Regions from separate parts of the Homo sapiens genome. Here regions 2 and 3 are each linked to region 1. Evidence: fine-mapped QTL for protein levels in blood plasma. A gene starts in region 1. Each other region holds a variant in brackets. All regions are shown on one strand. Distances are between the middles of the regions.

Evidence for each region. A credible set is the group of variants that fine-mapping cannot tell apart. PIP is the posterior inclusion probability: the model's chance that the variant is causal. The UK Biobank Pharma Proteomics Project read protein levels with antibody pairs (Olink). The fine-mapping took linkage between variants from a reference panel, not from the people measured, so its PIPs are less certain.
Region 2: its variant is the best candidate, but not a certain one, in a credible set for the plasma level of the KLRF1 protein (UK Biobank, PIP 0.89).
Region 3: its variant is the best candidate, but not a certain one, in a credible set for the plasma level of the KLRF1 protein (UK Biobank, PIP 0.78).

The regions. Positions count from the first base shown.
Region 1 is chr12:9,821,655-9,832,218 of GRCh38, forward strand. KLRF1 (killer cell lectin like receptor F1) reads left to right here and starts at 5,827. Exons shown (of 6, transcript NM_016523.3): 1 at 5,827-5,975. The coding sequence starts at 5,891.
Region 2 is chr12:9,809,877-9,820,440 of GRCh38, forward strand. It overlaps a transcript of KLRF1 not described here and the pseudogene GCNAP1. Among named protein-coding and RNA genes, the nearest start is that of KLRF1, 12 kb to the right of the region's middle. The variant A/G (reference allele first, on the strand shown) is at 5,341.
Region 3 is chr12:9,789,146-9,799,709 of GRCh38, forward strand. No RefSeq gene overlaps it. Among named protein-coding and RNA genes, the nearest start is that of KLRF1, 33 kb to the right of the region's middle. RefSeq lists an enhancer at 8,909-9,008. The variant G/A (reference allele first, on the strand shown) is at 4,835.

The DNA.
Region 1 (10,564 bases):
TGGAGAGGAAACATAAACACTGAGATCACCCCAGAGCTGTGGGGGAAAGCCCAGGAATGACAAGCCATAATCTACAGCCAACACTCAAGTGGGAGAGGATCCCAAACTTTCAGAGCATTGAGAGGCAGCATGGCTGCAACTGTGAAGAAATATAAGGGAGCCACACAACTGATCAAGAGCCAACCAACTGAACACTCTGCCTAAGCACAACCTACTGCATCACATCCCAAAGCTTTAATACCAAACTACTTCACTAACATACCACCCACTCCACTATGAGACCAAAGACAAGTCAGTTGCAAGTAAAGACCCTGCACAAAGCCTCAACCCTGTGAATACATCCAGAAAAGAAGTCTACTGACTATATGCAATCTACATCATGGCTAAAGAAACACTCAAATGCAGAGAAGAGAAAGAAGCAACACAAGAACTCCAGCAACTCAAATGGCCAGAGTTTCTTATGTCCTCCAAATGACTGCGCTAGTTATCCAACAAGGGTTTTAAACCAGCAGAGCTGACTGAAATGACAGAAATAGAATTCCGAATATGGATAGAAATGAAGATCATCAGCATTCAGGAAAATGGTAAAACCCAATCCAAGAAAACTAAGAATCACACTAAAACAATACAAAAGCTGACAGACAGAATAACCACTATAGAAAAGAACCTAACTGATCTGCTAGAGCTGGAAAACACATTACAAGAATTTCACAATACAATTCCAAGTATTGACAGTGGAATTGACCAAGCTGAAGAACTTGAAGACTAGCCCTCTAAAATAAGACAGTCAGACAAAAACAAAGGAAAAAGAATGAAAAGGAAGGAACAAAATCTTTGAGAAATATAGGATTATGTAAAGGCGCCAAATCTACAAATCATCGACATCCCTGAAAGGGATGGGGAGATACAAGCTGGCATAATAACCAACTAACAATACAATGACAGGATCAAATCCACACATATGAATACTAACCTTGAATGTAAACAGACTAGCTGCCCCATTTAAAAGGTGCAGAGTGGCAAGCTGGATAAAAAATCAAAGCTCAATGGTATGCTATCTTCAGTAGAACCATCTCACACACAATGACACACAGGCTTGAAATAAAGGGATGGAGGAAAATCTAACAAGCAAATGAAAATCAGTAAAAAAAAACAGGGTTTGCAATCCTAATTTCAGACAAAACAGACTTTAAACCAATAAAGATGAAAAAAGACAAAGAAGGACATTACATAATAATAAATTCAATTCAGCGAGAAGACTTAACTATCCCAAATATATATGTACCTAGTACAGGAGCACCCAAATTCATAAAGCAAGTTCTTAGCTACAAAGAGTCTTAAATATTTACAAAATAATAGTGGGAGACTTTAACACTCCAGACAGGTCATCAAGGGAGCAAATTAACAAAGATATTCAGAACCTGAACTTGACATTGGACCAAATGGATTTGATAGACCTTTACAGTACTCCGAACCCAGAAAACCAGTATATACATTCTTCTCATTGCCACATGCCACATAATCTAAAATTGACCGCACAATTGAATGTAAAACAATTCTTAGCAAATGCAAAAAAAAAAAACAAAAACTCAAAAACCAAAAAACAAAAAAAGCAAAATCATGCCAAACACATTCTTGGACCACAACGCAATAAAAATAGAAATCAAGACAAAACAAATCACTCAAAACCATGCAATTACATGGGAATTAAACAACATGCTCCTGAATGACTTTGGGGATAAATAATGAAATTAAGGCAGACATCGAAACATTCTTTGAAACTCATGAGAACAAAGATACGACATACCAGAATCTCTGAGACACAGCTAAGGCAGTATTAAGAGAAAAACTTATAGCGCTAAACGCCTACACAAAAAAGTTAGAAAGATCTCAAATTTAACACTCTAACATATAACTAAAAGAACTGGAGAAGTAAGAGCCAACCAACCTCAAAGGTAGCAGAAGACTAAATATAACCAAAATCAGAGCTGAACGGAAAGAGATTGAGATACAAAAGAAACATCAAAAAGATCAACAAATCCAGGGGTTGGTTTTTTGGAAAAAAAAAAAAGTCTCTCATTGGACTAATAATGAAGACAAGAGAGAAGACTCAAATAAATACAATTAGAAACTACAATGGGGATGGTACCACTGACCCCCATGAAATATAAATAACCATCAAAGACTACTACAAACACCTCTATGTATACCAAACTAGAAAACTTCGAAGATATAGATAAATTCCTGGACACATACAGCCTCCCAACACCGAACCAGGGGGAAATTGATTTCCTTAACAGACCAATAATGAGCTCTGAAATTGAATTAGTAATAAATAGCCTACCAACCAAAAAAAGCTCAGATGGATTCACAGCCAAATTCTGCCAGATGTACAGAGCTGGTACCATTCCCATGGAAACTATTCCAAAAATTTGAGTTGAAAGGACTCCTCCCTAACTCATTCTATGAGGCCAACATCATCCTGATACCAAAACTGGCAGAAGCACAACAAAAAAAAGAAAACTCGAGGCCGGCATCCTTGAAAAACATAGATGCAAAAATTCTCAACAAAATACTGACAAACTGAATCCAGCACCACTCAAAGAGCTAATTCACCATGATCAAGTGGACATTATCTCTGGGATGCAAGGTTGGTTCAACATACACAACTCAATAAATATGACTCATTTCATAAACAGAACTAAACACAAAAATCACATGATTATTTCAATAGAAACAGTAAGAGGTTTCAATAAAACCAACACGCTTTCATGTTAAAATCACTCAATAAACTATGTATTGCAGAAACATCTCAAAATAATAAGAGCCAGCTGTAATAAGCCCACAGCCAACATTATCCTGAACAGGTGAAAGCTGGAAGCATTCCCCTTGAAAAGCACAAGACACGAATGCCCACTCTCAACATTCCTATTCAACATAGTATTGGAAATCCTTGCCAGAGCAATCAGGTGAGAGAAAGAAATGAAGGGCATCCAAATAGGAAGAGAGGACGTAAAACTATTCCTGTTTTCAGACCATATGATTATATACCTAGAAAACCCCATACTCTTGGCCAAAAAGCTCCTTCAACTGATAAACAACATCAGCAAAGTTTCAGGATACAAAATCAACATACAAAAATCACCAACATTCCTGTACACCTATACACAACACCCAAGCTGACAGCCAAATCAGGAATGCAATTCCATTTATGATAGCCACAAAAACAATAAAATACATAGGAATACAGTCAACCAGGGAGGTGAAAGAGCTCTACAAGGATAATTACAAAACATTGCTTAAAGAAATCAGAGATGACACAAACAAATGAAAAACATTCCATGCTCATGGATCAGAATAATAAATATCATTAAAATGGTCATATTGCCCAAAGCAATTTACAGATTTAATGCTATTCCTATCATACTACCAATGACATTCTTCACAGAACTAGAAGAAAACTATTTTAAAATTCATCTGGAACAGAAAAATTAGCCCAAATAGCCAAGGCAATCCTAAGCAAAAAGAACAACACTGGAGGCATCACATTGCCCAACTTCAAATTATACTACAGTACTACAATATCCAAAATAACAAGGTACTGGTAAAAAAAAAAAAAAAAGCAGACACATAGACCATTGGAACACAATGGTCTAATGCAGACACATAGACCACTGGACAGAAAGCCCAGAAATAGTGCTGCACAACTACACCCATCTGATCTTCAGCAAAGCTGACAAAAACAAGCCATGGGAAAAGGATTCCCTTTTTAATAAATGGTGCTGAGATAACTGGCTAGCCACATGCTGAAGATTGAAAGTGGACCCCTTCCTTATACCATATACAAAGCTCAACTCAAGATGGATAAAATACTTATGTCTAAAACCCCAAAATATAAAAAACCCTGGAAGATAACCTAGGAATTACCATCCTGGACACAGGAATGGGCAAATATTTCATGACAAAGATGCCAAAAGCAATTGCAACAAAAGTGAAACAAAACAAAACAAACAAACAAAATAATTAACTGTAAGAGCTTCTGCACAGCAAGAGAAACTATCAACAGAGTGAACAGATAATCTACAGAATGGGAGAAAATTTTTGCAGACTATGCATTTGACAAAGGTCTAATATCCAGCATCTGTAAGAAACTTAAACCAATCAACAAGCAAAAAATAAACAACCCCATTAAAAAGTGGACTAAGGACATGAACAGATACTTTTCGTGTTTTATTTATCAATCTTAATTTACTTCTTATCCATTTGGAGTGTCAAATAATGGCCAAAGAAATTGTAATTATAAATTAAAGAACAAAATTTAGCAAGTAAAAATAAACAAAAATAACACAAAAATGTATTATCCTTTTACTTTTGTCATTAAGCAACAAATATATTTCTGATAATTTGTCAAATATTTTCTCCTTGAATTAATAGTTTATCTTATTTAAAAGGGTATATTGTGTTTTTAAAATTTTATTTTAAATTTGGGAGTACATGTGCAAATTTGTTACATAGGTAAACTTGTGTAATGGGGGTTTGCTGTAAAGATTATTTCTTCACCCAGGTATTAACCCTAGTACCCATTAGTTATTTTTCCTGATCCTTTCCCTCTTCCCACCCTCTATCCTCCAGTAGGCACTAATCATTAGGGAAATGCAAATTAAAACCACAGTAAGATACCATCTCATACCAGTCGAATGGCTATTATTAAAAAGTCAAAAAATAACAGATGCTGATGAGGTAGTGGAGAAAAGGGTTCACTTATACACCTTTGATGGGAGTGTAAATTAGTTCAACCATTATGAAAGATAGCATGGTGATTCCTTAAAGACCTAAAACCAGAAATTTGACCCAGCAATCCCATTACTGGTATATACCCAAAGGAATATAAATCTATCATAAAGACACATGCATGCATCTGTTCATGGCAGCACTGTTGACAATAGCAAAGACATGCAATCAACCTAAATGCCCATCAATGGTAGACTGGATAAAGAAAATGTGATACACATATACAAAGGAATACTATGCAGCTATAAAAAAGAATGAGATGATGTCCATTGCAGGAACATAGATGAAGCTAGAGGCCGTTACCCTTAACAAACTAATGGAGGAACAGAAAACCAAATACCACATGTTCTCACTAATAATTGGGATCTAAATGATGAGAACACATGTACACATAGAGGAGAATGACAGACACCGGAGCCTACTTGAAGGTGGAGGGTGAGAGGAGGGGCAGGATCAGAAAAACATAACTATGTAGTACTAGTCTGAATACCTGGGTGATGAAATAATATGTACAACAAACCCCTGTGACATGATTTTACCTATATAACAAACCTACACATGTAGCCCTGAACCTAAAAGTTAAAAAAAATCAAATTATACTGTTAAATTATTAGCATGATTTATAAACAATATTGTTTTAGGATAAAGAATTTAATTGCTTGGCAATTGCAAATTATTAAATTAAATATCAATATGTTAGGGAGGCTAATTCAAATGATATAAATATTTAGGCTATAACAAAAGGCAGCTATATATTATTAACCTCACCTCAAAAAGGGGCATAATTTCCATTCCCTTGACTTTAAGGGTAAATTAAGAGAAATTTGTAAAGCACTCAAAAGAATATTCAATTCAATATGTGGTGGACAGTTGAGAAATTATGTGTTATCTATGTCATGGGAAAGCAACTTTTAAAAAGAAAACATTTCCTCTGAGGTTTTCACAAATAAGTGAAACTGTGAACCCTCATATGTACTGTGAAAGGACAATTTGAGGAGCATCTCTGATTAGCAGCAGATTTATTATTCTTTCCTCATTTCATGTTATACTTAATAAAACAAAACATACCTGTATACACACACATTCACTCACATTGAAGATGCAAGATGAAGAAAGATACATGACATTGAATGTACAGTCAAAGAAAAGGAGTTCTGCCCAAACATCTCAACTTACATTTAAAGGTATGGAATTTAATTTCATTTTTTCAATTGGTGTGAATTAACATGGTAGTTTCCCGTATCCTGTTCCATTGTGTTATTGGACTGTTTCAGTATTTGGGTGCTTTTCTTTCTCCGTCTCTGTATCTCTCTCACCTGTCCTCTCTTTCAATATTAATAATGATTTAAAAATAACAACCTCTCTTACCATTTAAGAAACACCAGTTTCCGGCACTATACAGAATGTTTTATCTATGTTCCTTCATTTAATCTTACAAATTTACTATGAGATAATCTCTCTCTCTCCCATTTATCAATGTGGAACTAACACTTACTTGTAATATTTTGTCTGATATAATTTCTTAAGGACATTCTCTGAGGAAATATGCATACTCAATTAAAATTAATAATTTCAAATTAGTGAATATTTGCTGCCATTCACCTCCTTATCATTCATAGAATATGGTGTTTTAATGCTATTTTTTTTTTTTGAGACGGAGTTTCACTGTTGTTGCCCAGGCTGGAGTGCAATGGCATGATCTCGGCTCACTGCAACCTCTGCCTCCCAGGTTCAAGCAATTCTCCTGCCTCAGCCTCCTGAGTAGCTGAGATTATAGGTGCCCGCCACCATGCCTGGCTAATTTTTTGCGTTTTTAGTAGAGATGGGGTTTTACCATGTTGGCCAGGCTGGTCTTGAACTCCTGACCTCAGGTGATCCACCCACCTGAGTCTTCCAAAGTGTTGGGATTATAGGCATGAGCCACCGCGCCCAGCCTTTAATACTAATTTTTAATTCAACTTCTCAAAAACTTTATGCTTTTCACCAAGTTGACTCAAAATAAAGTTTATACACCAGCAATCAACATTTTAATTTGCTACTTCAAGCATACCCTCCATACACAATGCAATTCCATCATGCCACCTTAATGTGATTTGGCAAAAGAGATAAGCAGAAATTAAAGACACAAATAATCACAGTTATAGAGACTGTCTGTTCTGTTCTGTTGCTTTCTAAATATTTCTCTTTTAATAACTTCACCCATGAAAATTTTACTTATCTCTTGAGTCCTTCCACAAGTATCATCCATCAGTGATTCATCTTAGAGTTACATACGTGCTATGTATAAGAAATTTATTGCCTCTTCCATGTGAATTTTTAGATTCCCATATTTTCAAGTCTTTACTTCCTACACTCAATTTTTATTTCATTTTTGGAAATTAGAGATATTAAACCTGAAAGACTACAACATGTAGTGACTTCTCTGCAGACTTTTTTCCACACTCTGTTCATAAATGTCTCTCTGAAGCAAAAATGTGCAGATTTTCGGCTCCCAGATATTTAAGTGACACATACTAATATTTATGTCTTGTACCTTTAGCTAATATTTATTAAAGCTTGAGGTAAGACGTATTTTATGTGAATTAGATTGACAATGTGAGCCTTGGGGTTATGATGTTCATTCATTTAACTTAATTTTGTGATGACATATTTGTAAATCTTTTCTCATATATTGAAAAACCTTTGTTGCCAGTGATAGTAAGAAATTACATAATTGCTCTATCCCACTATACATATGTAGTAGTTTCAGAATCACTATAGAAATAATATTATAATAATAGTTACTTAAAACAGATTAAAATGTTTTGCGGTTTTAAAAAATCCTTAAGATATATTCCATTGAGCATGCACAGTTAAATGTTTTAAAATCACTTTAAGTAATTCCTCTCTCTATAGTGAAGACACTAACAATACCTAGTTAGATTCCTTTTCTTCATTTTTTATGGATTTTTTTTCATTTTTGTTTAACTTACTTTATAGTAGCATAAAACATTTACATATTTTCAGTCAAACTTATATAATGAGGGGCCAAGTGTGGTGGCTCATGCCATTAATCCCAGCACTTTGGAAGGCCGAGGCAGGATGATCGCTTGAGGCCAGGAGTTCAAGACCTGCCTGGGCAACAAATCAAGACCCCCATCTCTACAAACAATAGAGATAAAAAAATTAATCAGTCATGGTGGCACATGCCTGTAGTCCTAGCTACACAGGGTGCTCAGGAGGGAGGATCTCTGAGCCCAGGAGCTCAAGGTTACAAAGAGCTCTAATGGTGCCACTGCACTCCAACCTGAGCAACAGAGCGAGACCCTGTCTCAAATAAATAAATAAGAATTTAAAAAGTTTAAAAAATTACTTTCAGAGAAATCCACCTTGCATAAATCCAGCACCCTTCATAAAATTTACCATTTTGTATTTCTATATTTCCAGTGTTTACTTAGCTATTCTCACTCTTTTGTTCTTTCAGATAACTTTATAAAAAATTATTCAGGCTCACTCACCACAAACAACAACAAATAAAACAACCCGATGTAGCTTTTACGTCTAAATTACTTCCTAGTCTGTCATTAAGCTTAGGGAGAATTTATATTTTTGACACATAGTTTTCTTATCCAAGCACATGATCAAATTAATGTTACTCAGTTTTCGGTTAGTTTTGTTTTGTTTTGTTTGTATTGGGTTGGGACACTTGTCGAGTTTCTGTCTAGTTTTCTTTTTGTTTGTTTTTTTTGGTTAACTATCCGTGAGTAATGAATTTCTTTCATCTATGTTTTCACAGTGGTTACTGGATTATACAGGGCACTGATTTTAGTATGTTATTTTTATAAATGCAGCTACTATTTTTTGTTTCTGGAATTAACGGTAGTTTTTCAATTGATTCTTTTATTTTACCAAATCTGCACTCACATTACCTTCAAATAATTTTACCTTCTTTTTCTAATATTTCTACCTGTAATTAGAATATTTTTCTTCATTGAATTATATATTACCTCTTCGTATTAAAAAGTAGTGGAGATTTGAGCTATCTTTCTTTTTCTGGACTTAAGCAGAAAACCTTCTTTCAGTTTTCTCAATTGAATAAGATGTTAGCTTCATTAGACATAAAACTATTATGTTGAACAAGTATCTATTAATTTCTGTTTTTTAACATAAAGATATAAGATTTTATCAATTTCATTTTTTACATCTATTGAGATGATGATAGATTTTTTTCCTTAGCTTTATTAATATAATATTAATATGGATTTCCTCCTATTGAATAATCTTTATATTCCTAGAATAAACCAATCATGGTTATAATATATTTTGGTTGCTGATAATGTATTTACCATTTTTGTACAGACATTCATAAGACTGATTTTGGTTTTCCATTTTATTATTTCTGGTTTTGGGTGGTTAAAAGGCTTGTGTTTTAACCTTTATAAGTTAAATTAAACCATTTCCTTATAGGAGAAAACACAGGATAATGAAAGTTTTACTTTCTCCATTATTCAGCATCTTTTAAAATTTTTTTTTACTTTTATTTTTATTTTATTATTATTTTTTTGAGATGGAGTCTCGCTCTGTCGCCCAGGCTGGAGTGCAGTGGCGCGATCTCAGCTCACTACAACCTGTAGTGCTTAGGAGAAATAATTCAGTCTGAGTTGAATTTCAACCACCTTCCACAACTTTTTTTCCTAATGTTTTCTGATAATTATTTTTTAAGTTTTAAAATAAATATATGACTTTTTTAAGACACATGCTTGATTTCTTGGAATTTATTGCTTATCAATATTAATATATCAAAAATTCAAAAATAATCTCAGAAATGTGGAGTATTCATTAAATGAATTCTGATAAAATTATTTTAATATCTTTGACAATGTTATGATAAGAGAAACCCTGCGAACTATTTATCTAAAATATCATTCTATAGGGTTCATCATGTGCTTTCTTGACAGGGCTTGACAGCGTCAAATGTAGTTTCTCTATTTTCTCAGGTTTAAAGAGTATTTAGAATATAAATTTCAGCATTAATAATTCAATTTATTGACTGAACAATAAGAATAATTTCGGTTACAATAGAGGATTCTTATCAATTATTATGATAGATTTACATAAATTATCTTTGATAAGGACAAAATGTTTCACAAAGTATAGATATTCACTTATTCAGTATAACATAATTATTCATGTAATTTCGTAAGTCAGTGCCCAGCAGACCTAAATCCTCTGGATGAGACTCTCTACTGTCTGTCCAATGATAGCAGTTTCTTGAATAATAATCATTGAACAAGCACTCTTATCTTAAACCTGACAGTGTAAGTCTATGAAAAATAAAACAGTTCTTAAAAGTTTAGCATTTAATAAGAAGATGAAATATTATTCATGACTTACAAAGGATTTTAGGGTTTTTTTGATTAAAATAGCAGGATACCTAAAGCCATATTTAGTTCTGATTCATCCTTAGTAAATAAAAAAGGCTCAAAGGACTTGTAAATGTTATATTAATGATTAATCAGAAAGTGTTTATGTGGATACACATGTATTATCTGTAAATGCATGTGCATGTTCATGAGTGCGTGTGTCTCCGCAATGGTTGGAAAATTATTCAGTGCATAGAGTAAAATTCTTTCTACAAATTAATAATGTTAAATATTAGCAATTTCTTCAGATTTGATATGACACGTATCATAGCTTCTGACCATCCAGAGTGTTATCATTGTTAAATAAATGTATATATTTTTCTATTTACTTAGCCTTCATGCTTTTGATTGCCTAATATCTTTTGAAACCA
Region 2 (10,564 bases), 12 kb before region 1:
CTATGGATTAATGTATCAAACAAAATCACCCCATGAATAAATCAAATATTTATTTATTTACCTGAAGTATACAAAAGGAGAATGACATAAAGATCAATTAGCAAGGTTGATAAATCTGCAAGAAACAAGCTTCTCAGTCCTAAATTTCATCATTAAATCACTGAAACTCAGAGTTGTGAATGACAACATCTGAATAGTGAGTGTCAACATAGATTTTCTACAAGCTTGAGGGTTTTTATCTAGGAACAATTCTGTTTGTAGGTCATCCTGGATATATTCAAGGGACCATTATTTTTGGTATTATACAATATAACTTGATGTTCTCATAGTCAAATGTGAATGCATTTCTCATACTTTATCTGAATCCTCCCAAATTAACAATGTGGTCCAAGTATATTCCCAAAATTAGAGTTTCTGAGCCTGAACGGAAGTTAAGCTCCCAGAAATCGCAGGTAGCTGTGTTAATAAGTGGTTAGAATAACTAGGGCTTATCTTTTGTGTGTCCTTTGATAAATTTAAACAAATTAAATTCCTCTCCAAGATAGGTCTGATTCACAAACTTAATGACTATATGCTTAAATTTTCACCTATAGTTTAATGAAATGTTTGTTTTTAAAAGATGTTTGAAGTCTAAAATAGACTCCCCAAACAGTGTCTGACATGTAATAAGTCCTCAGAAAATAATTCATAAATATTGAATGACTAGTAGGATATTAAAATGTGGTCATTCCTGCTGTTTACTTTTATCTGAGGGCACAAATGTCAAGAACAATTCTATAGGTGCTAGACCTCCTATATAGGACATGCTAACAAGCTTGCAAAAGTGTTTATTTCAAATTTCGATCTATCATCTACTTTCAGAGCACATTAAGAGTTTATGAGTGTTCAGAGATTAGGAAGTGAGAATTTTTTTTATGAAGTGACTTGCCAGTGTACTTCCCATTTCCCAATATCTTTCTGTGTCAATAAGCAAAAGAACTTCTCTTTTACCTTAAGCCAAGTTTGGATTCTGTCATATATTGGCAAGTGTCCTCTGGGAGTTGGAGGTTGCAGAGGTGAACACTTTCAGTATGTGAGTTTGTTAGAACTACACATAACCACAGAGTAAAAGCAGATGTGTAGATTAAGCCACACTTCCAGCAATGGTGAGGCTGAAGGGAGTGTTTCCTGTGGGCCGGATGAAGATCTCATACAAAGCAGCCATTTGGGAACCATCCTAAAATAAAATTCACCTAAGACTGCTTCTTACCACAGGCAAGTCAGCCTCAATGAAAAGAAGCTGGAAGTATAGAGTAGAAAGCAAAAAAAAAAAAGGTACCTGGGGAGTTGTGAGGGGTGAGGTACAGTGATTTGCAAGCAGGATTGCCAAAGGAGACATCACACATCAGACAACTGCAGAGTACCCCAGGAGCAGAATTTCTGAAAAACCCATAGAAGTAGTCCAAAAAAAAAAAAAAAAAGAGAGAAAACATTTGGAGTGTCAGCATACAGATTAAAACTGTCCAGGCTGGTAACATCTTTATTCCGTGTTTATTTCTATTCCCTTTGTTTCACCTTCACTCATTCTGGGGATCAGGGTTGGGGAATGGAAAGAGATACTAGAGAGGGAAGAAGCTCATGCAGAGCCCGTTATACTCACTTGCCCCCTTAATGGTCCCAAACTAAGCAGATCCAATCCAAGCTGAGAGAGAGGAAAAGTGTTAAATTAGATAAAAGTTGGACTTAAGATATTAGGCGGAATTGGATCTTTTATTATCTTCATTATCAAAAGACCATGAGATCCACAAAGGAAGGAAAGGAGAAGACTTTATTTTCAGAGGGAAAAATAACCCTAGAATTAGGGAAATGCAGCTTTCGGGAAAATCCGAAAGTTCACTCTCTGAAGAAGTGAGAGGGGGCTGGTATACATGTCTTATACAGTCAGTTTTACATACATACTGAGCAGGGTTGGGAAAATTCTGTGAATACTTATGAATATTCATGAAGGAAGTCAAGCACTAGTGCATTGGGTAAGCAGATGTAACATGCACCCCACGGTCACTTTGGGATGGTGTTTTAACATTAAATCGGGTGGAATTTGGCTCTTTACCTCAAAAGGTGAACTATAGCGTACAAAAATAGTTTGTACATAATCTCCACAAGCTGTCTGTAACTGGTTTAAGGTCTGTGGCCATTCATCAATAAAGAATGTTTATAAGATTGGGTCTGGCCGGGCGCGGTGGCTCACGCCTGTAATCCCAGCACGTTGGGAGGCCGAGGCGGGCGGATCATGAGGTCAGGAGATCACGACAATCCTGGCTAACATGGTGAAACCCCGTCTCTACTAAAAATACATAAAATTAGCCAGACGTGGTGGCGGGCGCCTGTAGTCCCAGCTACTCGGGAGGCTGAGGCAGGAGAATGGTGTGAATCCGGGAGTCAGAGCTTGCAGTGAGCCCAGATTGCACCACTGCACTCCAGCCTGGGCGACAGAGCGAGACGCCGTCTCAGGAAAAAAAAAAAAAAAAAAAAAAAGATTGGGTTCTTTTTCCAATCTGAGTTATGGTAGGACAGTCTGACTTATGGCAGGACAGCAAGGCTGGGGAGAAGGTTGTCCGCTGGCATCAGGCAATCTGTCAAGATATTTTGGAAATTTCCCAGCTATGGTTGTTTTGGCAATGCTTTTCAGTATTTCCTTCCTGTTTAATTATGGGAAGGAAAACTTATGGCAATTAATAACCCTGGGATACCTGACTAGTCCCTCATCCTGCTATCTATCAGATTCTGGTTTCTCATTTGTTTGTCTGTTTCTGTTATTTTACCCACAGGGAGTCTGTTTCATGTTCCTTGGGGTATATTTTATCACCTGAAATACAGAGGATAATATTTATTACCTTAGAGAGAATGGAAAACTTATGGGAATTGCCTATGATGTGGGAAGAAATCAGTCTGACTTCCTAATAAGCAGGGGCAGTTTTGAGACAGAATATTGTTGTTGCTTTCTCTTTTAATGCAGTTTGACCGTATTTGTCAAATCAGTTACTTATTCATTTAATTTTGTAGTGTTGTTTAAGCATTTCAAATGCTTGTACACTTGGAGGATATGAGAGCATTCATCATCAAGAGGTAAAACTTCCATGGGGGATGGGCCGATCACAGAGTGGGTGGTCAGCCATTGGGTTGCCCTCCAGGCTTGGGGGAATATCCTTGCAGCAAAGTGCACTGTGGAAACCTGCTGCCAGTCTCATGGCATTCCCTCTTTTATGTCTTTTTATTTTTTTATTTTTTTAATTAATTAATTTATTATTATTATACTTTAAGTTTTAGGGTACATGTGCACAATGTGCAGGTTAGTTACATATGTATACATGTGCCATGCTGGTTCTTTTATGTCTTAACTGACATATAAATCTAACCAAAAATTCCTTCCTAAAAACCTTGTAGGATTTTAAAATTAATTAATTATTTTCGAGACGGGGACTCTTTCTGTAGCCAGGCTGGAGTGCGGTGGTATGATCAGGGCTCACTGCAGCTTTTAACTTCTGTGCATGTGATCCTCCCACCTCAGCCTCCCCAGTAGCTGGGAGTACAAGCGCAGGCCCCCACGCCCAGCTGGAATTTTAAAAAATAGAATAACAAATTTACAAGGTCGCAATTTCGACTCTTTTCACACATTTCATGATACGGAGGAAGAAAACATTTTTCCCCCGAGAGAGGCTTCAGGATGGCTGTCTACAGGCCCTCAGTACTTTCCTCCACAAAGAAGAACCAAAACACCCAGTAGAAAATCAGACTTGGAATACAGCATCTAAAAGAACACATTCGAATTAAGCAGAGAAGCGACAGGAAAGCTCTGAGGCAGGAAAGAGACAGAGGGGAGGCAGGTAGCTCAGCTGAAACTGTCTGGGAGCCCAGAGACTTCTTAGTGCAGGGAAAGTGTGTCCACATTCCCACCGCAGACTCCTGCAGTCGTAGCCATGGGAGAGCCCTGGGGGCCCCGAGACTAGGATGGGGAGCTGCCTGGAGCCTGCACCGCGCAACAGCACTGTTCCAGGACGGAGCTCAGGCGAGGTCCCACACACCTCCTGGACCAGGCTATTTGGAGCCCAGCCCCAACAAGACTTCATCCTGCCTCGGGTCTCAACAGCTTCCGCATCTCCACATCCCTGGAGCCCCGCAGACATCCTTCACTTCCCCCACAACACCCCACACACCGGGAGGGCTGTAGTGGCACAAGGCTGATTGGTGCCAGCCGTGTGGCTGGGTCCCTGGCACTCTAGCCCCAAAGGTGTTCTACACCCCGGGGGAATCGGCAGTGCAGTGCACTGGGGAGGCTGCCTCCAGTCAAAGGGAGCCAAAACGCAAGCTCCCCAGAGCCTGACAGCCACTTGAGTGAGGTCGCTGCCACTGACAGCCACCCCGACTCCCAATAGCAAAGCAGCTGCGCACCGACAGGCTTTCTCCACCCACTGCCATCTCCACAGCCGGGACTGCCACCACCCAAGCACGCCGCTGGGAGGCGCCTGGGGATTGCCCACTCTGCCAACCACAGCCTGAGCCCTGAGCACAACATAGGGGATTGGGTTGTCTGAGGGTAGGACCACACCACCAAGCAAAGCCTCTCCCAGTGCCTGAGCACACTGCCCAGGGGCCTGGGGATCCATGGCCCTGTCCCACCCGTAGCTCCGCGTATGCTCCTGCACCATCAGGAGGCCTGACTGAAGACCCAGCCTGGCTGCTCGCAAGCCCCACCTACCACAGCCTGTGTGCACCATCAGGAGGCCTGAGGTTGGACCCGCAAAGCCTGGTACGGCCCACAAGTGCCCAAGTGCATCATTCAGTGGCCTGGGGACCGCCTTTCCACCACCGCTGACATCTGCACTCCTTTGGGGGCCCGAGGGCTGCCCGCCCAGCCCACCCTTTGCTGCCACCATAAAAGGTTATTGTAATGGAGGTAAAGAGTAGAATGATAGTTACTAGCAGCTGTGAAGGATGTGTGTGTGTGTGTGTGGGAGGGGGGAGGTATGCAAACATACAATTAGAAGGAATAAGTTCTAGTGTTCAACAGAATAGTAGAGTGACTATAGTTAACGACGATGTATTTTATATTTCAAAATAGTTATGAGAAGATTTGAAGTGTTCCCAACACAAAGAAATAATAAATGCTTGAGGTGATGGATATCCTAAACACCCTGACTTGATAATTACACAACCGATGCATGTATCAAAATATGACATGTACCTTAGAGATACATGAAAATATTATGTACCAATAAGAATATAAAAAAGAAATAAAATGAAACAAGAATACTTTTCTTATAAATCATGATGATAACAAGAACTATAGAAATTGCACCTTCA[A/G]ATTAACTTGACAAGGCAAATCCTACCTATTTTCTAATATACTACTTTCTAGCTTAAATGTAAAAAGCCAGTTATTTCAATGAATTCAAAATTTATTTGTGGAAGTAACAGAAATGTCTCAACATGCTATGGTTTGATTAATCATTTCTACACTAACTTCTGAGAGAAGATTTGACAAGAGGACTCTGGGATAGGAGCTATCTATATCCAGGATGATTCTATCTGAGCCGCAGATGGACTTCTGTGGATTTTTTGTGTGGTTGAGGTCTATTTCTCTGTCAGCAGATACCACTTGAGTAGCAGGAGACAAGGTATAGCTTGCTACGCACTCCATCTTTCTTTTCTTTGACTCTGTCCAGCTAATTGTACAAAGTGTGTGGATCAAGCAATGACCTAGATTATCATTATATTGGATCCAAGTTATTGGTGTGTTTCTTGGGTTGGCCTAGCATTGTATTTACCAAGACTATGAGGAAAGTGGTGCTAAAATACGCTCCTGTAAATCTCCTGGCTTCCAGGCATAGTCCTTACCACAATGTGTAAGAGCAACCCAATTTCTGCCTGTATGGCTGCTGCGGCTGCTGCTGCTTCTTATTCCTCTTCTTATTCTTCTTCTTTTGAGATGGAGTTTCACTCTTGTTGCCCAGGCTGGAGTGCAATGGCGTGATCTCAGCTCACTGAAACCTCCGCCTCCTGGATTCAAGTGATTCTCCTGCTTCAGCCTCCTGAATAGCTGGGATTACAGGCACACGCCACCACGCCTAGCTGATTTTGTATTTTTAGTAGAGATGGGGTTTCTCCAGGTTGGTCAGGCTGGTCTCGAACTCCTGATCTCAGGTGATCTGCCCGCCTCGGCCTCCCAAAGTGCTGAGATTAAACTGTGAGCCACTGCGCCTGGCCACAGCAATCTTCTTCTCTGCCAGCTGCTTCAATGACTGCGGAGCCCAACGTGCAACAAGGAAGTCTCATCTTCCTGTTCATCAGGATAATGGTCATATTCCTTATTAGAATAATCTTGCCATAGGCATTAGAACCTCTAAACCCAGCACAAACAAGATCTTGGGAAAAGGAGACAATTTTCAAGTGAATTATTAGGTGTACTAGTACAAGGCTACTCCAAATCTGAATCCTAACTCTATGCTTTTGTTCCCATACCTGTACATTCTGGCTATGGCAGAGACAGCAACATATATTGGTAAGGCAAATACCCCCTCTTAAAAAACTGAATCCCACACTTGCAAGCTGTTTTATTCCAACTGGTGTCATTAGTGTGCTTTCAGGAAGTCATTTCAATACCCTGGTTAGCCAGTTACTTAGGGGCAAGTAACTTCTTTTTTTTTTTTTGAGATGCAGAAAACATTCTATTTTTTGATTACATGGCTCAGATAGTTTCATTCAGTGTCATCAGCAATGAACTTCATGAAACATGTTCATCTTTCCTGTCTAGGTAGATGTCACAGTAGCCCTGGTTTTTAAGTGTTGCCTCTAAAACTTGTCCTCTTTCCAGCATTCTCTTCTTTTTTTTTTTTTTTTTTGAGACGGAGTCTCACTCTGTCTCCCAGGCTGGAGTGCAGTGGCGCGATCTCGGCTCACTGCAATCTCCGCCTCTCAGGTTCACGCCATTCTCCTGCCTCAGCCTTCCAAGTAGCTGGGCCCAACACCATGCCCGGCTAATATTTTTTTTTCTTTTGTATTTTTATTAGAGATGGGGTTTCACCGTGTTAGCCAGGGTGGTCTCGATCTGCTGACCTCGTGATCCGCCCGCCTCAGCCTCCCATCCAGCATTCTCTTCTTTCTCTCAACCTGCCACTATTGAAAACTCACTTTTCTTTTGCATTTTGTCCTACGTGTGAAAACTATTGAGCTGAAGTAAGACCCAAGGTAGATCCCAAGGGCTTCAGATCTACCCTGTCAAGGGCACAGAATGGTTAGCAATAGAGCCCCTTGTTAAGGTCAATCATGGTTAATAACATGAATGTTAAATTCTAATATTACTTAACAGTATCTAAATTCTAATATCCTTAATTTCACAAAAACAAACTTTTCTAACACTTCTTACCAGTAAAGGATTTAGCTCACACGAATATACTCTCAGATAACCTTAAGAATTCTGCCTTGCTTTGTAATTCCTGCCAGTGCTGCATAAGCCAGCAGTTCTCAGCATCTTTTTATTCTAGCTGATCTCTAGTTTCTCTGGTAGCTTTTTATCACAGACGGAGCTGTTAAACAGGTCGTAGATTCTCTGAACCAGTTCATCCTTATTTCGCTTGAGATTTTTTTCCAGAGTACTGTTTTGACTTTTCAAGGTCAAGCAAGAAACATCCAGGGACTTTGCGCTTATGAGTCCTAGTCTTGCATTTTTCAACTTTGGCCACACCGGGTTTCTTCTTTGAAGGTCCACGGTTTTTCTGTCCCTTACCAGCAGGTGTTACAGATACATTTTTGGTCTTTGCCTTCCTCTTCCTCAGTGGCTCCACTATATTTTTGGTCTTTGCCTGTCTTTTCCTCAGTCACCCCATGATATTTTTTGGTCTTTGCCTTCCTTTTCCTTGATTATTCCACCACAGGTGCAGGCACTTCCTCAGTTGGCAGCTTCCTCTCTGAAACCTCAAGTTTAGTCTCAGGATCACCTGGTGGTTCACTAAGATTCTCACCAAGATCATGCTCAACCAGCATCATCAGATGAATCATGCTGGCAGACAGCAGCCTCATCCAGCTCTTCTTCATCTGAGGCAGTTTGGTCCTCATCATACGAATCTTCTGCTGGCACAGAAACTTCCAAATCATTACTGTCATCATTGTCATCATCACCATCACTAATAACTATTGGAGGGTTCCTGGATGGTGGGCTGCACATAACAACACTCCAGACTCTCATCGTCACTGCTTATTTAGAATATCTTAGCTTTCTTCTCCTCATAGGAGTAGCATTCATCATCAGAGTCAGAGTTGATCACTACCATAGAGCTGGACTGTCTCTTCTGAGCTCTTCTGGCCATAGAAGACCCGTGGTTCTCATCACTGCTTGAATCAACGTTAAGGATGTATCAATTCTCCTCTGGGTTGTGCAAGTGGCACAGCTCTTCTTTGTACCTGTCCATGTCTGGTCTTGCAGCCTCTGGTGTGGCCAGCGGCAGCTCACCTCCAACTGCCCATGGAATGTGTGTGAGATCCTGAGCAACTGGGCAAGTAACTTCTATAGGCATGAACTGATTGTCAATCTTTCTTTGTTGTAAAATGTCAAATACAATATTGTGTGAGGAACCATGACAATGGATAAGACATTCTGTAACTCTTAAGTATTGATGTTAGTAGAAGCACTGTAGGCATAGAAGGCAAATCTGTTCCTAAAATATGTGATTGTTCCTATGAAGACCAAGCAGCATCTAGTCCAAGATTAAAGAGACTTAAGTAATAAATCTGCCCTTAGGTGACTGGCTGGTAAATCTCCTGGTTCCAGGCATAGTCCATGCCAAAATGAAAATGTTTTCCCCCTAAATTTTGCTTTTATTTATTTATTTTTGTATTTAGAATTAGTCTTAGAATGCCAAAAAAATTGTCAGTATTTTTTTGTCTTCTTCAAGTTATAATATTGAGCAAGTGCAGGTAGCCAACTAGAAGCAGCTAGTGTGTGCTGTTCTCACAGGAGAAATAGAAGGGGCTAGTAAATACAGCACCTTCAACTGAAGCATCCAGTTACACACATTGGGATTCATCAAGAAAACAACTCAATCCGTGGAGGATGAAGTAAAGCAAGGCAGGACGACTGCCCACCCGGGAGCAACATGGAGCCAGGGGAGCCTTCCCCACCCAGGGAAGCAGTGAGTGACTGAGCACCTGGGGGAGCACAATTCTCCCATGGATCTTTGCAACCCTTGGGTCAGGAGATCCCCTTGTGAACCCATCCCACAAAGGCCTGCAGTCTGACACACAGAGCTACAGGGAGTCCTGGAAGAGTAGCCTCTCAGGCACACGCAGAGCCCTGGGAGCCTTAGATACCAGGGCTTCCCAGCAAAAGTGGCTGGGAATTTAGACATCTCTACATCCCTAGGAAAGGGGCTGAATCCAAGGGGCTGAGCAGGGATTGTCCGCAGGCCCTGCTTCCATGGCACCTCACAGGATAAGACCCTCTGGCTTGGAACTCCAGCCAGCCACTGGTAGCAAGGTTATACCTCCCCTGAGATGAATCTCTCAGAAGGAGGGGCTGGACATCATTTTTGCTGTTTTGCAGCCTTAGCCATTGTTGCCAAAATCCAAGGTGACTAAGGATTGGAGAAGCCCCCAAAATAGCACAGCTGCTCTACAGGGAGGCTGCCAGACTGTTTTTTTCACGTGGGTCTTGGATCCCATTTCTCTTCACTGAGCAAAATCTCCTCACTGAGGTCCACAACCACCTCCACAAGTGTTTTTGAGCTGGCAACAGGTCTGTACCCCTCTGGGATGGGGTTTCCAGAGGCAAGGATAGCCCACCATCCTTGCTGTCTTACAGCCTTAGCCATTGTTGCCTTCAGGGAGTCTGAGGCGACTAGGGACTGGAGTGGTCCCCTGGCAGAGCACAGCAGCTCTACAGAAAAGTGGCCAGATTGCCTTTCCATGTGAATCCCAGACCCTGTTTCTCTTTACTGGCTGGAATCTCAAAACCAAGATTTACAACCACCGGGTGTTTTCCAGTTGACAACACGTCTGTACCTCCCTAGGATGGAGCTCCCAGAGGGAAAGGCAGGCTGCCATTTGTGCTGCTTCACAGCCTTCACTGTTGTCACTTTTGGGCGTTGGAGAGTCTGAGGTTATGAGGGGGCTGGTTGGACCCTCAACACAGCACAGCTGCTTTACAAGAAAGTGGCCAGAGTGCTTTTTTATAGCAGTCACTGATCCTGTTTCTCCTCACTGGGTGTGACCACCCAACTGGGATCACCAGCCACCCTCACCAGTGTGTTTGGGCCAGCAACATGTTGGAACCTCCCTGGGATGGAGCTCCCAGTGGGAGAGGCAGGCTGCCATCTTTGCTGTTTCACAGCCTTCACTGTTGATACCTTCAGGTACTGGAAAATCCGAGGTAACTAGGGACTGGAGTGGACTCCCAGAATACTGCAACAGCCCTGCAAGAATGGTGGCCAGATTGTTACATGACCAGACTGTTACCTTGATCCCGTATCTCCTCGCTGGGCGGGTCTTCTCAGCCTGGGCCTCCAGCCACCCCCTGCTGTGGCTCTCGAGCCAGTAG
Region 3 (10,564 bases), 33 kb before region 1:
AATCTGCTAATAACAAATTCTTTTAATTTATATTTAACTTGGATTGTTAATTCTGGTAATAGGATTGCTAGATCAAATGGCAGGTCTACTTTAGTTCTTCGAGAAATCTCTGTACTATTCTCCATAGGGTTTTTATTAATTTACATTTTCACAAGGAGTGTATAAGTGTTTCCTTTGTAGCATATCTATGTCAACATCCAGAGTTTTCCAGTTTTGTAATTACAGCCATTCTTGCAGGAGTTAGATTGTATCTCATTGTGATTGTAATTTGCATTTCCCTGATTATTAGTGATATTGAGCATTTTTCATGTTTGTTGGCCATTTGTATATCTTCTTTTGAGAAGTGTCTATTTATACAATTTGCTCACTTTTTGATGGAATTATTTGTTTTCTTGCTGATTTGTTTGAGTTCTTTATAAACTCTGGATATTAGTCTTTTGTTAGATGCTTAGTTTGCAAATATTTTCTCCAATTCTGTGGGTTATCTGTTTACTCTGATTATGTCTTTTGGTGTGCAGAAGCTTTTTCATTTAATTAGGTCCCATTTATTTATTTTTGTTTTGTTACCTTTTCTTTTGGAGTATTAATCATAAGCTCTTTGCCTAACCCAATGTTCAGAAGAGTTTTTCTTTAGGTTTTCTTCTAGAATTTTTATGGTATCAAGCCTCAGATTTAAGTCTTTAATCCATCTTGAGTTGATTTTTGTATATAGTGAGGCATAGGGATACAGTTTCTTTCTTCTACATGTGGCTGTCCAGTTTTTCCAGCACCATTTATTGAATTATTTCCCCAATCTACGTACATTTTGTCAAAGATCAGTTGGTTATAAGTATTTGGCTTAATTTCTGGGTTATCTATCTATCCTGTTCCATTGGCTTACGTATTTAATTTTATACCAGTACCATGCTGTTTTGTTTATGATAGCCTTGTAGTATAATTTGAAGTCAGGTAATGTGATGCCTCCAGATTTGTTCTTTTTACTTAGGATTGCTTTGGCTATTCAGGCTCTTTTTTTGGTTCCATATGAATTTTAGAATTGTTTTCTGTAGTTCTGTGAAAAATGATGTTGATATTTTCATGGGAATTGCATTGAATCAGTAGATTGCTTTGGGCAGTGTGGTCATTTTCATGATATTGATGATCATATTATTATAGAAATTATTAAGAAATTATTTCAGGCAGATAGGATAAGTGGTCCTTGGTAAGGTTTTTTTCTTTAAATAAAAGCAGCTCCAGAAACATTTCTTTTTTAGCAAAAAAATGGCTTGAAGGGCCAAGCCAGCAAGCTTTGATATGCAAATGCTGGCTATTAGAAGCTGGGTCCATCCAATATGGCAAGTCCCACCTTCTTCTCCTTGTCACCACATGTGCCAAGCATCATGGCACCCCCAGAGGTCTCCACTGTGCAGAAAATCATGGCGGCCTGCATTTGCATATTAAAAGACTAGGGTGGGAGAGCCAGTTTTTTTGCAGGCTATGTGAATGACATACTAAGTCAAACCAATCCCCTGGGCCTATAAAAATCAGACACCACCTCCTCCAGCCTTCTAATATAACAGATTGTTTCCACCATACTTGGGGTTTCCTCTCTCTGCTTGGAGCCACCCCCACCCCTCACCGACCCCCCGTCTCTGTAGCTGGGAGCTTCTTCTTTCTTTCTTGCCTATTAAACTCTCTGTTCCTTAAAACCACTCCATGTGTGTCCATGTTGTCTTATCTAAATTGGCGTGAGACAAAGGACTCTGGTGTTCCTCCATTCATTGAAGCTGTATCAATATTTTGTATCATTTCAATGAACTACTATAGGCAGCCCATCCCTTAAGTTTCCCTCTTAAGTTTTTTGGTCAGCTTTTCCTTTGCCCCAGCTGTTATTCCATATTAAGCAGCTGCAATGTACAGCAATAGGTGCTGATTGTTTTTGTCAAATACCCCTAGGGAAAAAGTCATTTGCACTGAGCGAGCTCTGTTTGAGATCAACTAAAGTCGTAGGTGGGAATTTCCAAGATCATGTTTGATAGTTTGAATAATGACAGTACTCTAAGAATAATTTTTGGGACTTCTAAACCCTTTATGGCCCCTCTGAGACCTGTTGGGCTACAGTTCACTACTGCTACTATAGTTGTAAGACCTACTATAGTTTTTCAAGGCTACTGTGAAGCTGAGGAATACGGAATAGGAATAGAGCAAGTTAAATCTCCACAAAGGTCACTGTTTTCAATTAAATTCACCTATTTTCTTGAGTAAATGCTTGCCAGATTTTTGCAAGTCTTTGGTTAATTCACAGTATTCTGAGGAAGTTTGTTTTGACAGTTTTTGTCAATGTTCTTGTTGATTTTATGAAGGAATAGCTTTTTGTAGGTCTTTATTCCACTGTTTCTGCTCATGTCTGGCAAGACAATTAAGCAGGTAATTATGAGGGCATGTAGAACACATCTTGGAGAATTTATTCTCAAGGTGGCATTCTATAAAATTATGTAAATATTTAATCTGAGAAGTGAAAGATGAGACAGTTTTCCAGGTGAATAAGGCAGAGGAAAAACAACAACAACAACAACTTTGTAGACAAGGGTAAAATGTACAAGTCTTAGAGATGGGAGAAAGAATGGTCCACTACAGTGAGACTGAAGAATGGAACAAGAGACAAAGCCAGATTACAGGGTGAAATCAATGCTGTTAAATAGTCTGGAATTATTCTAAGTGCAGAAAGAAAGTAATAAATTCTTATAAATTTGGGACAAATTGCAATTAGATATTAATTTTTGGAAGTTAACAGGTGCAATTTTTGGAAGTTACTCAGTCTAACAGGTGCAAGATGAACTGGAATAAAGGGATACCATAGAGAGATGACTGCCTTTAAGACCAATGCAGTGGAAGTAGAGATGATGGAAAGTTGTTGAATTAAAGACATTACTAGTCATTACAGTCTATGATTTATTAGGTAGGGTCATTTAATCAGAAAAAAATGCAGACAGAGAGTCAAGGATGGCCTTCATGCTTTGATTCCTAAAACTGTGGGCAGTATTCTTTCAAATGAGTCAGAAATTAGGGGGTAAAATTAGATTTAGAAAAGAATCAAAATGATCACTTTTGTTTCTGGAATATGTGGGAGATTGAGTTGGATATTTTAATGGACTTTTGGATATATGCTGCTAGCCCTAAGCAAAGGAGTCTGATCAGGAAAATTTATCTATCTATCTATCTATCTATCTATCTATCTATCTATCTATCCATCTATCTATCTATCTATCTGCATATATGTGTGTATATATGTATATATATGTGTGTGTGTGTGTGTATATATATATATATGTCTTCCTTATCTTTTGATTTAAAAACTGGTTTTCCATTTACAATGGGTGCAATGGTGTGTCTCCACTTTGGACTGAAGCCTCATTGTCTCAGCACCTGGGAGTCAGAAGCTTTCAACTGAATCTTCCTTGTATGGCTCTCAGCTAAACAGAAGTGCCTTCTCAAAGTCACACTTTCTCCCAGTGCCAGATGTATCAAACGGCTGGTTCGTGTGGGAGTATAAAAGCTTGGACTTGTTGCCTTATATCAAGATAAACTTGAAAGGGCACTCACCTCCAGAGCTCCCTATACTGTTAGCTGAAGCCTTTGTGTTACTGCATCACAATTCAATATCTGCCTTTGCCCAATCCTTTCTTTCTCATCCACAGGTACTTAACATCCTTTATGTAATCCTTCATCTGAGAGTCTGTTTTTGAGGAACCTGACCTGTAACACAGCCTGAAGAAATTTGGGGACAAATCCTAGCAAAAAATTGGGATATCATTCTTGATGTATTTATTTTTTGGATGATACATATCATTTTACTCCCTAAGAGCCATACCAATCAATACTACAAAAGAATGAGCAAACGGAATTTCTCTGCAGCCTGTATCTCAACAAGATCTGCTCCTCCAACTCCTTGCATCTGGCATTTTTTGGGGGATAATCATAAGGAATGTTTTGACTCTCTGATAAACACACAGAAATGAACATTTTGTAGGAAACCATAAACATGAGTCATACAGATAAAAAGCAAACATAGTTCTATTTACTGTCATCAGAGTATGTAGATCAATATTTTATTGCATTGGAAGCTTCATCTGCCATTTTTAAAGTAATCATTTCAACCAGGAGGATGGTATATTCTGACTGAAAACCTCCCAGGACCATATTATGTAGGCAAATGATTTTTTCCAAAGAAATAGACAGGAAAGTGGCTGTAAAGACAAAATGTATACCTTTGACTATAGTGGCTAAGGCCGTATCTCTGTGTTTTTTCCATTGACCACATGGTTGGTTTGAGTCATAGGTGTACTGAGTCAAATGGAATTGAATGATAAAATCAAGGAGCACTTTGTATCCAGAAGTACAGCAGAACATATCAAATATTAAATTGATGCATAAAATAGGAAATATCTTTGTTTACCTACATGTTAATACTAAAAAGTACTATTGCCCCATGCTTCACGATGAATATCAGGAAAGTAAGAACCATGGGAGATAAAAAATGAATTAACATAGTCTCCGACCTGTGTGTCTACAGTTGAATTTTATACATATAAGCCTTATAAATAAAGCATTTTACCTGCAAAAAAAGTGATCATAAAATAATATGATTACACAATTACACAAGGTGATAAAAGGAAAAGTTCTAATAAAGGGGCTAAGGAGCCGTGTGATAAACCAGTTGTAGGAAATATACTTCTCAGTCTTGCTTTGGATGTTGGAACGGTTTTTGAATGTCCTGGTTTTAGGAAAACTCACCTTCTACCTTTCTTCGAAACTTCAGAATTCATTTGCAACCAAATAAGGAAGTAACTCCTAC[G/A]CATCTGTTTCCTATACACGTTTCTCTTCATTTCACCACAAAACTATGTAATTTATAGGAAGTCAATTTAACTTCTTTTCTTAGAAACAAGAAGTTACAAATTTCAAGGGTATTTTTGGAGGTATTGGCGGTTTACAATTTCATTCAAGGTTATTGTCATAGTTTGTTACACTTTTTAGTATAAGAAAAGCCTAATACAAAATATGTCAAACTAGCAAATAATTGAATTAATTTAAAAGAAGATAAAATGAGAACATTAATAAGAAGAATAAATATAGAACCCAACGTACCTTGAATTTCAGTGAAGCAACAAATTGTTTTTCTTAAAATATCTGTGTTTATATGAGCACTAAGTGGGCTGGGATTGTAAAATCCTGTTAGTAACAGCGGAATCACCTTTGTATCATGACAATGATGAAATTACTGTCTCTTGTCACAGCTGTGTGATTTGACTAATATAATTTGGCTTATATAATTCCCCAGCAATTAAATCTACTTTTCTGATTACACTACACCTGCACCTTAATAGGTGTATTTAGCTGGGGAAATAAAAAATCATGCTGAAATGTCTCATTTAAAAAACATAACCCACTTGAAACAGGCTTTTGTAGTTAGTACTGCACCCTAAACTATTCCTGTCAAGACCACCAATGACCTTCATTTTACAAAACTAATGACTGGTTCTCTGTTTTCATCTTGATTTCCATTTCTTTCTCTTTCTGTTTCTCTCTCTCAGTTTGGCTTGCATGAAACTTTTCTTCTATGTCACTAGTCATTTCTCTGAAGAAGCCCTTTTCACCCCTTTGTTTTCTTCTACTTTATCTGCACAAGCTTCCTAGATTATCTCATCCAGCCCATAGCATTAATGCCTTCCATATTCTTACGACCTGTTTTTCAGCTTTGACCTCCTTTTTGCATTCCATATTTGTCTGGCAACCGCTTAGTCACACTCTCTACTTCAGTGTCAAATTGACATTTTGAATTTAAAATGTTAAAAGCTCATCTTCTCATTTTGCCTTTCATACCAGCTTATTCTCCAGCTTTTCATATCTCAATGGTAGTTTTATCACATTCACACATATCAAAAACTCCTGAGACAACTTTGTCCTCTCTCTCCTAAACACAACATCTAACCCTCAGTGAGCAATGCACACAGAATCATACGTCCACTGCGACCACTGTATTTCACATTTCACGCTAACACCAACAATTGCCTGCTATCGTTAACAGTGTTTTAATTGTGATCTTTCTGCTTCTGTCTTGAAGCAATGGTAAAGAACTCCCTGGACCCCCATATTTATGCCTGGACCCTGCTTTGTTTCTTCAAGGCACTTTTCCTCCAGCCGAATTATTAGTATAAGATTGTTCTGTTTGCTGCCTATCTCCCTTCATTTGAATGTAAGCAGCATAAGGGCATCAGTTTTCTTGTACTAATTGCTATATACCTAGTGCCGAGAACATTGCCAGGTGATAGCAGATGTTCAATAAGTATTTGTTTAATTAATACAGACATCGATGTGTACATATGATAGTGAGCGAGAGTGGGTAGATCGAGGATGATTATATTAAAAGATGTGATCAGAGAGGACTTCTCTGAATAATCCAGATTTCTTCTAGATTTCTCATTTGTAAGTATGGTAGTGCTCCTGAGAGAAAAAGGCACTGCAGACGTGATATGCAGATAGCAAGTCCAAGAAGTAAGAAGCAGAAGCCTTCTTACCTTCGTGTACCATATATTCTCTTTGGTTTTACCCTGCTTTGAAAGGTACCGTGACTCTGTACCTCTCAAAATTTCATTTCCAGTGGTCCAATATATACTCAGCCTGAGCTCGCTGAAAAATCTCCAGCTCTTTTTTTCTGGGCAGGTGATATTGGCAGCATCCTGGCCAGGAGGTCTAGCCTGAGAAATAGAACTTTTTCAAATAGCGTGTCTTGTATTGATTCCTCTTGTTGCATCAGTTAACCACCAAACATTTATCATGATTTAAGTTTACATCCTCAACACTTTTCATATATTTTCTACAGGAGAATGGTGGAAATCAAGGAGGGGGAGTATGTCAACCACTGGAATACTGTGAGGACGAACGCATTGGCTTTTACATGGGTTTTAGGAAGAACCACATGATTGACAGTGTCAGTCCACATCCCTTCTGATTATCCACAAATTAAAAATTGAGCTGAGATCTGAATGGTGATTGAATTTGTCTGGGAAGACACTACCATTGTTGTTTTGATTGTCATTATTTAATATCTGTCATTTAAAGACCCCACCATTTTCTTCCTTTAGGAGGAAAAACCATCTTGGCTTTTCTGCTGTAATTATTCTTCTGGATAACTCTCAGAATAATTTTTGTTCTGATTTTGTCAAGGTATTAAATAATTACTGATATGTTGCTATATTATATATTTAATTTTCGGTTTTCTTCTTACCGGGCTTCTCAGAAAAATTTGACGTAATTGATCTTTACTTTTCCTTTATACACTTCCTTCCTTTGGTTGCTAGAGAAGTAGTATCGATAATACTAGTGATATCAACATCACCATCTTTACCACTTCTAATGCTGCCGCTGACTCTACCACTATCAATCTCTTCATGTGAATTACACATAAGGGTTGTTTTGTGTTTCATATTAACTTTCTTAGGTGTTTTCTTTAAAGTACTCATAATTGTAACTATAATATGCAGTTTCCTATGTAATCATTTGATAGTGGAGGATTTATGGTGAATTATTTTCATGAGACTGCCTGAAATTTTATACTCTCTGGTTAGAGATCTTTTGTTAATTTCTTCCCATAAGTGTGTGTGTGTGTGTGAATTTCATTTTAAAGAAAAAATGAGAAAAAATTTATTTCCAGGACACAGAATAAATTGGAAACAGACATACTTCTGTCTGTTTTTTTTCACTGCTCATTTTATTCAATTCAAAACAATATAAACATTCAGATACTCTTTGAGCTGGTTTCAGGATTTTAGACCTCTGTGAATAATTTTTTTTCTTCTTTTTTACGAGTATTCCAACCACATTTTTGGGGGGAGCAGGCATATTCATTTTGCTGTTGAAATTATGGCAAAAACTGCAATGACTTTTGCACCAATCTAATACATGCTGTCGTTTACAATTAGGTAGCTTTCAAAAGGCAGGGGCCGGCGATCAGCCTTTTATGCATCTAATCTTGGGTAACAAGGACTGGCTGTAATGAACTGTAATGATAACTCCATTATAACTTCAGCTAAAGTATGTGTTGCATATTGTTTTCTTCGTAAATGTTAAACAGGAAGTAAGCATCATTTAGGACAAGGAATTCTCAGAAAAAAAAAATAAACACCACATTGAACGTTTACACAAATTTTAGTGGAACTTACTTTGGCGCAATGCCTAACAGAGTAAGTTACTAACTCTCTTTTTTATTCCTTAAAGAAAGAAAGAAAATAAATGAATTTACAGTAATGTTGGAGTTTTCAGGCCTATTGAAGATTTGGGATAGATTGTGCTAGAACAGATTGACATTGACAGATTTCAAGTTCCTTTTGCAAGTTATTTTACTTTGTATTTTAAAGAGGCAATATGTTTATAAAGCAATCAAATTAGCCTATTTGTGGCATATAAACTTTTTATATAATAAAGCTGGGAAAAAGAAACTCTAATTTCTTTACCAGCTTGAGGGCAATTGACTCTAATACAAGAGGGTTCCTAATCATTAACATATATGTTTATTTGCATTCATAAACTTGAAATGCATATTCAGTTGTCTTATTTGGTATTTAATAGTAGGGGGATATCCTAAATCAAAATTACTTTAATTTATATAATTGTAATCATTTCAATGTTTTTGGAGGGGGAGATAATCCTAAAAACTAAAATTTAAAAGATGAAACTATTCATTATTCCTGCTGTATAACAGATGGTGAATGCAGGCACATAATAATAGGCAGTGTGGCAATACTGAGCACAATGACCAGATCAGGACAGATGCTTAAAAATATTTTAAAAAAATAATTAGAGTAATTGTTTTGTATGACTCGAAGAAAGAATCGGGTTAAATAATAGAGGGCACAGGGCCAGCGAATTAAAGCACATCACTTGATTTTGTGTTTCAAATAACTGCCTTGGAGTAAATGAGCTCCTCAGACCAATTTCTGACACAAGGCCTACACCTCACAGCCTTCCTGTTCTTCTGCATTCCTGCAAGGGCTCTTGCACGTAGACCTTCAGTTCGCTTGTGAACTGTTGCTCTCTAGTGGTGGTGTGAGGCCTTAAGGAAACACCTGCTACTGTGTGGTCAGGAGGTAAAGTGCTGGGCTCTCATATTGTCCTCCCTGTAAACACCTTCCTTTCTGCGTTTGGACACCTTCACCAGATTCTATTTTCCATTTGATCATTAGTCAAACACTTATTAGACAAACAAGTGGGCCAGAAACTGACAGATGTTAGAAATACACAAATAAAAGTTATAGACTCTTCTATTTCATGTGTTTCATAAAGTATTAATGGTATATAAATTAAAAAATAGAAATTAGGTAAGAATAACCTCCATCACCGATATTTGACATTTCCTTTCTCAATTATAAATCATTGATCTTAAGTTATTGTTCTTTCAATATCTGAAACATTCTAGGTATTAAATTGATATTGAGTGAGTGAATGAGTGAAAGAATGAATGCGTGTATGGTAGAAGCTATTTTGGGGAAAACGGTCTTCAATGCTCAGGTATTATTAAGAGCAAAGCTGCTTTCTCTATCTATGTAGTGTTTATGACCAAGAGAAAAGGCTTAGATATATGAGCAGAAACAGAGGATTTTGCAGTTTATTTTCTAAACTTTGGTCTTTTGTACTTTATGTGAATGTTCAATCACATGGTTTTAATATATTTTTCATATATGTTTCAACTTTGTATGATGTGAAATCACAGAAATTATATCATCTGTTGTATTTTATTATATAATATCTATTTTTTGATCCCATAGAAGTACCAGGGTGTTTTTTTTTTTCCTTTCAGGGGTCATTGTTTGCATAAAAAGAAAAAAAAAACTAATTTAACTAGATATTTAAGTGATTTGCAAAGCAGTGTGTTTCCAGCTGTTGAAGGACTAAGGTTTTAAGAGAGTATAGAACCGATTGTACTACTCATTAGTCTAGGTAAAGCTTGTGTGGAGAAACAGCTCCATGAAGTCAGATTTGAGGCCTCTAAGTCCTAGCCCCAGAATTTTACTATCTCTAGGTAACTTTGGAGAATAATATGATTCTTCTTATGTTTCTATTCTTCGTTTTCAAACAAGGTTAACAATCTAAGCTGCAACTAAAGTGTGATAAGAGGTTCTAATGATATAATGCATGTAGAATACATGTAGAAATCACTTCATGTTTGAATTACCACTACCAATGCTCAATCAGAAAAAGTATCTTAATATCCACCTTTGTCTTGTCAATTTGTTCCCTTTCTGTTCTATCAGATGTAGTTCTAGAGATTTCTAAGCCTTGCCATCATACACTTTTTCTCTATATTTGAGCTTAGCCTGTATTGTAAATATAAAATCCTTTGAGGCAGTTGAAGCTTTTACTAATATCTTTATTCTCCAGTATCTAGCACATTAGCTGACAAGCAATAAGTTCTTGATTTATTAATTTATAATGTATAGGCATTTAATATTAACTTTTAAAATAATTAGACAATGAATATATAAATTCAGAGCACATATCCATTAAAGGCATGTAAGCAAACACATTACAA